Linked DNA regions of Homo sapiens: region 2 is reported to be linked to region 1. Evidence: microRNA targets listed by miRTarBase, many of them from high-throughput screens and not tested one by one. Region 1 holds a microRNA gene; the other region holds the end of a gene's coding sequence.
The links. The annotated mature microRNA hsa-miR-1226-3p reads UCACCAGCCCUGUGUUCCCUAG and lies in region 1 at 1,143-1,164, opposite strand. An mRNA with a match to its seed (bases 2 to 7 or 8) in the 3' UTR can be bound and repressed. Matches are read on the target gene's strand: a 7mer-m8 pairs with bases 2 to 8, a 7mer-A1 pairs with bases 2 to 7 and ends in A, and an 8mer does both.

Region 2: the mRNA of PAF1 is a reported target of hsa-miR-1226-3p. The part of its 3' UTR that is shown has no 7-base or 8-base seed match.

Annotation. Positions count from the first base shown.
Region 1 is chr3:47,847,772-47,850,771 of GRCh38, reverse strand. It overlaps MIR1226 (microRNA 1226), which reads right to left and starts at 1,217; the gene lies at 1,143-1,217. DHX30 (DExH-box helicase 30) reads right to left here. Exons shown (of 22, transcript NM_138615.3): 14 at 2,816-2,991; 15 at 2,386-2,592; 16 at 2,222-2,303; 17 at 1,955-2,148; 18 at 1,693-1,852; 19 at 1,423-1,580; 20 at 1,218-1,321; 21 at 1,003-1,142; 22 at 579-905. The coding sequence ends at 652. It overlaps MAP4 (microtubule associated protein 4), which reads left to right. Exons shown (of 21, transcript NM_001385682.1): 21 at 1-77.
Region 2 is chr19:39,382,883-39,386,390 of GRCh38, reverse strand. PAF1 (PAF1 component of Paf1/RNA polymerase II complex) reads left to right here. Exons shown (of 14, transcript NM_019088.4): 14 at 1-762. The coding sequence ends at 400. It overlaps SAMD4B (sterile alpha motif domain containing 4B), which reads right to left. Exons shown (of 14, transcript NM_001384574.2): 13 at 3,100-3,183; 14 at 691-2,892. The coding sequence ends at 2,864. Among named protein-coding and RNA genes, the nearest start is that of PAF1, 6.5 kb to the left of the region's middle.

The DNA of each region.
Region 1 (3,000 bases):
CCATTACCTGTGTCAGTCCATGATTCTGTTGTAACAGTTTTAAGAGTAAATAAATAAAGCTGCCTGATGTCCCATCACGCAGGCTTCGTGCTTCTGTCTCGTTTTGCATCTACCACCTCCCTGGATCTTCCTGCCCTCAGCTCAGCCCCTCAGCTGTGAACTTGTGGATGTGGACACGGGAAGGACCACTGTGCCACATAGCCCTGCGCCTTGGCTACCTGTGGAACTCTCCCCTAGTCTGCCTGATAAAGGGCTACTTGACACTTACTTGCTTACTTACTGTCCAAAACTACAAGGACAGTGACAGTTCTGACAGGCTTCCTGTGGTGGGTACCGAGAGCAGCAGCTGTGCCAGGGGACTGGGGTGGTTAACAGCACCGCTGCTTCATGCTCTTTCTTGGTGAAGGGAGGAGGTTCCAACCCCCTTCTCTCTTAAAAGACTTGGGGCCACAGCCAGCCCGTTCCCCAGCAATAAGCATCTCACTCTCTTCTCTACCTACCTTCCTCCTTCCTCTTTGGGGAACCGTGGCCCAGTGTATGGAGGCCCTGAGAGAGGAGCCCCTAGTGGACAGCAGTGGTCACAAGGGATAAATAGAACTTTATTTTAAATAAACATTTGCACTCTGTACACAGCCCCAGCAGAAGCAGGGCTCAGTCGTCAGCTGTCTTGCGCACATCAAAGCTGCCACAGGGTCCTCGCAGCAGCTCTGCCAGTAGCGCAAGCAGCTGCCCGTGCTCCTCCTGTACGCTGGGGGGAAGTGCAGCCAGCTCGCTGCGCAGGCTCCGCTCCACCATGCGGCCCAGGGCCCGCCGCAGCTCCTTCAGCAGCCGCACGGTACGCGAGTCACCCTCCAGCCGCAGCAGGTCACTGTCGCTCAGTGAGATGGTGGCCCGGCGCCCGTCATCTGAGGGAATGGAAAAGATGGTGGGGAACTGTGGTGAGGCCAGGCCCCGGAGGAGCAGCTGCAGAGCGGGGTGGGCGGGAGGCCTGCAGGCACCCACCACGGATGTGCACGTCCCCGTCGGTCAGCAGCAGCACAGCTAGCGGGTGCACCTGAGAGGAGTCCCGGACGAAGACGCTGCCATTGGACTTGACTGCCATGAAATACGTCAGCCATCGGCTCCGTAACCGTGTGGCCTCCCTAGGGAACACAGGGCTGGTGAGGCCACCCTTTTGGACCATCCCAGCTGCCCCATCCAGGCCTGCATGCCCTCACCTGTTAATGGTCGACTTGTGCAGCAGGATGTTGCCTGATTTGGTCCTATATGTGACGCTGTTGGGCTTGAACTTCCCCTGCCGGGTGACCTTGCCCTGCCTCACCTGCAGGGATGGAGGAAAAGACGGGTGGGGCTGAGCAAGGAGCTGCAGACAGGGAAGGAGGCTGGGACCTGGTGAACTCCATTCCCTCCCAGAGGCAGCACCTGGATGAGGTTGGGGTAGAGGCCGGCCATCAGCACGCCCTTCACCAGCTCCTCCTCCTCACTGTACTCGTTGCACTGGGCGGAGGCCAGGGTGCAGTCCGAGGGCTTCCCCACCAGGAAGGCCTCATAAATGTTCTCTGAGAACTGCTTGATGAGTCCTAGGGAGACAGAATGTGTGGTGGACCTACAGCCCCTAGCCACAGGCTGGAGGTGACAGAAACTCAGTGGGGGTGGGAGGGGCTCAGGAGAGCAGGTGTGGGCCCGACTGACCGTGGATGAAGCGCAGGCTGGGTGCGTACAGCAGGTTTTCCTCCAGGTAATTCTCCCGGGAGCTGCGGTCCTGCCAACGCAGCACCTCCTCCCAGCCGGCGACAGCCCGCACAAAGGCCAGGTGGTCACTGCCGCTGTCATGGCTCAACAGTGCTTTCACCTGGGAGGGGAGAAGAGGGCAGCCGGATCACAGGCAGGGGCTAGACAACGCCCCCTCAGAACAGCAGTGGGTGGACGGCTCCAGGAAGGAGCCAGGACTGACCTTGTCCACCTCTGCCCGGTTCTGTAGGCTGCTGCTGAAGGGGTCCCGGGTGAGGCAGGAAACGACCACCAGTAGTGGGTGCAGGCAACGGAAGATGGCAGCCAACACAATGGCCTTGGCCAACCGGGGGTCGGTGGAGATGTGAGCCAGGCGCTGCCCCAGGGTAGTCAGGTACTCCCGCTGGTCCAGCACCCCTGCAACGGCTCAGCTGTCAGTACCACCCTCGAGAGCCACTCCCCAGCCCAGCCCAGCCCAGCCCCTACATACCGATCTCCTGGAGCAAGATCACAGCCTCGTCCACTGCCTTGATGTTTGGACTGTCCACAGCCTTGGACAGGAACTCCACCGCCTATGACAGAGCCAGAGCCCGCCATGAGCCTGCCTCCCACCTGCCTGGTCCCCAGGCCAGCCCCTGCCCCGCCCCGCCGCACCGTCTTCTCAGGCATGTGGATTTTCGCTTGCAGCACCAGGTTCTCAAGAGGTGTGCGCAGGATCTCTGGCACTTGGAAAGGGACCATTTTCTCCAGCCGGCTTCGAGGGAACAAGTGGTAGGCAAAGCCGGACTGGCAGCGGCCCGCCCGGCCCCGGCGCTGGATCACATTGGCTCTTGATACCCACACTGTCTCCAGGCAGGACACCTGGAGGAGGTGGCAAGTAAGCAGCACACAAATGCCACTTCCTCAGTGCTTCCCCACTCCCTGAGTAACCCTCACCAGCCCCCTACATCAGGAACACTGAGACCCCACAAGCGCGGCCTTCTGAAGACACACAAAGCAGGTCTAAGGTAGATCTGGGCTGGGGACCACCTCAAAACGGAGTCCCTCCCCCAGTGGTTGGCCGGGCCCAGGAGGTAGGTGCCACCTTGGTCTTCAGGTCATAGCGTTCTTCCTTGTGCAGCCCACTGTCCACCACATGCACGATGTCATTGATTGTGATGGAAGTCTCAGCAATGTTGGTGGCCAAGACAATCTTGCGCACCCCAACTGGAGGCTGCTGGAATATGGCCTTCTGATCCATCATGGGGATGTTGGAGTGCACTGGTGGGC
Region 2 (3,508 bases), not on the chromosome of region 1:
GAAGGGCAGCAGCAGTGAGAAGGAGGGCAGTGAAGATGAGCACTCGGGCAGCGAGAGTGAACGGGAGGAAGGTGACAGGGACGAGGCCAGTGACAAGAGTGGCAGTGGTGAGGACGAGAGCAGCGAGGATGAGGCCCGGGCTGCCCGTGACAAAGAGGAGATCTTTGGCAGTGATGCTGATTCTGAGGACGATGCCGACTCTGATGATGAGGACAGAGGACAGGCCCAAGGTGGCAGTGACAATGATTCAGACAGCGGCAGCAATGGGGGTGGCCAGCGGAGCCGGAGCCACAGCCGCAGCGCCAGTCCCTTCCCCAGTGGCAGCGAGCACTCGGCCCAGGAGGATGGCAGTGAAGCTGCAGCTTCTGATTCCAGTGAAGCTGATAGTGACAGTGACTGAGTCCCAGGGCATTCAGGGCTGGTTCAGACACCATTATTGTGAGCAGCAAAGCACTTTTCTAGTGGTCTGTTTGTGAGCCTTTCACTTGTTTGTTCCCCACCCCCAAACCTTTGCTGTTAATAAAGTCAACTTCTCTTTACTTCCCCTCCCAGCCCCTATGATGTCATTCAGCCCAGCACATACCTCCCGCAACCCCCAGGTGCTCAAGGATCTTGGCTTGAGGCTTAGAAACACAGGCCAGAGGCAGGGCCAATGGTTTCCCACAAAATGTAGCACAACGAAGGTCAGAATTCGTTTTTTTTGTTTGTTTTTTTTTTTTCCAAAATAAGCCCAGACCATTAAACAAGTGAAACTCCAACAAATAAGTCTTCTCCAACAGCGAGAAAAACTGTACAGTTACTCAAAGCTGATTCTGCCAGTGGGGCCGGGGACAGAAGTGGGTAGGGAGGGTGAAATCATGGAGGAGGGCCTGGGGAGGGGGCTGGAGCGGGAGAGGGTCAGGGTCCTGCCCATCAGAGTGGGGCCGCCTGCGTCCTGCACACTCTGCTGTCAGGTGGGGTGGGGGGCAGCTCTTGCCTCCCTGTGTGTGTGAGACGGTGTCCCTCACCACCTCCCAGTGCCAGGCACAGTCAGCTCACCCTGATGGAGAGTGAACAAGACAGGACAGGCTGGGGAGAGGGGAGGGTCCCATGAGAGGGACACCCTGCTGATTCCAAACGAGGTGGCCCATCCATCCCACTTCCTGCAGCTAGTGGGAGGGGGACTGGAGAAGCCCTGGGAGATTGAGGGGATGAGCAAAGGCACAGAAACATGGAGGGCCGGGGTGGGGGACTTGCATAGGTTGATGAGTGTGCAAGAGGTACATAAATAAACCTGACACCCCACCCAGCCCGGCACTGGGAGAGGAAGTGGGGACCCAGAGCCAGGTTCCCAGGGCCACCCTACCCCCTGGCTTCTTCCCCCTCCCTGGGCTCAGAGCAGAGGGAAGTCCACAGACCAGGAGGGCGGGGGCAAGAAGGTCTGGGGAATGGGGTGATAGTGCAGGGAGGGTGGTGGTTTTAAAATTTTTTTTTTTTTTGTTTTTTTTGTTTTTTTCCCAACATTTTGTATCTTTAATAACATACACAATGGTTACCAGCCATATTCATAACAAAAGTTATTCATAAAATGTATCTAAAAATAACATTTTTTTTCCTTTTCGGTGTGAAAAGCTTGAGAATGTCCCAGTTGGGAAGGTGGGTTGAGGGGGAGGAGGGCGTTGAAGAGGGAGACCCTGGCTTCCCCGCAGTCTGAACCCCCAAATCCCCTCCCTCCACCTGGGCCCCAACACAACCCCTCATTAGGAATAGGGACCAGACAGTCTGTCGGACTCTGGGGCTGGGACGAATCTCTGGGTTATGATATAGTGTTCCACTTAAGTGAGGTCATGACATAATGGGGGAAGGAAAAAGGCTGAAAGAAAAGGGAGGGGCTTAGGGAAAAACCCAAAAACCAAACAATCCCCTTTCCCTTATTCCTGACTCCCAAGTCTCACCAACCAGACCTGGGAGCGGAGAAGGGTGTGTGTTCGTGGGGAAGGGGACGTTAAGGCAACAGACTTCCTGACCTCACTGGCTACCCTGGCTGCCCACCTCCAACCTCTTCATCCGGGTAGCCAGGGCTGGAGGAAAATGGGTTAGAGCTTGAGGGTCTGGAGGAGGGGGCTCTGCCCTCTCCCCTCATAAAGTTCAGGCTCTCCCTGCCACTGTCTTGGCTGAGAGAGACCTGGGGATTCTAAAAATGAGAGGAAATGATCAGAGAAAAACCGTTAAGAACTATATAAATATGTATCTTAAATAGGCCTAAGAAATTAATCATAGAGAACCTCTGGTGAACAGGGCCAGGGGAGGTGAGAGAGAGGAAGGTGGCTCCTGTCCTTGCAGAATGTGGGGAATGGTGAAGGGGAAGCAGGGAGAGGAGAGAGAGCTTCCTCTCCTTGCTCCCCTTCCTTCTCCCCAGCTCCTCTCAATAACATTCTGGAGGGCAGGTTCTCTGCCCTGCGCGTCACCCCAAATGTCAAATGTTTCTGAGCAGGCTCCACAAGGTAGTGGTCAGTTTGTCTCTGGGGAGTCTGCTCCCTTGGGGAGAGGCAGGTGGTCAGCGGTCTGGAGGAGGCAGGGGTGGGATGGGACCAGGTGGGGATGAGGAAGGAAAGGAGAGAGGCAGGCAGTCTGGCCAGTCCCTGCCCCCTTTATCCTGGCTGCCCCCAACTCCCCGGGCCTCAGCAGAGATCCCTCGACGGGCCTGGGAGTGAGCAAGGCATGTGCCAATGTTAAACAAAAGTTAAGAGGGTAAGAGAGTAGAAAAATATTAGAATATATAGCTGAGCCAGCCCACCCTCTCGCTGTCGCGGAGAAGCCCGTTGGGGGTTGGCCCCCGCCCGCCGCCCAGGGAGCCTATGGGTGCGCTGGGCTGTGGGTCCCGTCAGATGGTGGAGGTTTTGTCTGTCCCATCTGTGGTAAGAAAGGGAGGAAGGGAGGAAGATCAGGAGCTGGAGGGAGGCCCAAGAAAAGGCACTCAGGTAGCCTGTCATCCCAGTCAGGCCCTCCCTGGAGTCTGGCCTCCCCTGGGGACCCCTCAGGATGACTCTGAGTTGCTCAGTTCAGAGGCAGAGACGCTGGGTAGGTGGGAGCTGGGTCAGGGAAAGAGGAAATGCTCACCACCCAAGGCGTGTTCTGTCATGCTCAGACACAGAGACTCCAGAGTGGGATTGATCTCCAGGTCAGGCCCAGGAACCGGGCAGTCTGGGTGGGAGAGAGGAGAATGGGGGTGGTAAGGACCAACTGGACTCAGGTGAAGACAGCTGGGATGACAAAGGATGCTGGTATGGGAAGGGAGCAAGAGAGATGGAGGGGGAGAGGGAAGAACGGGAGGAGGTGGACAGGGAGAGAGGCGAGCGTGTCACACAACAGGCAGAGGAGACAATGGCAATGGCAGAGGCTTGGCAATACAGAAAAAGCCCGACTTGCAGAGAGTGGAATTGAAACTGAAGGAGCTCCTGGAGGCCACACACAGCCTGCTGTGACTACTCTGGACACAGACTGCATACTGTCTTGAGCACAGTCTGGG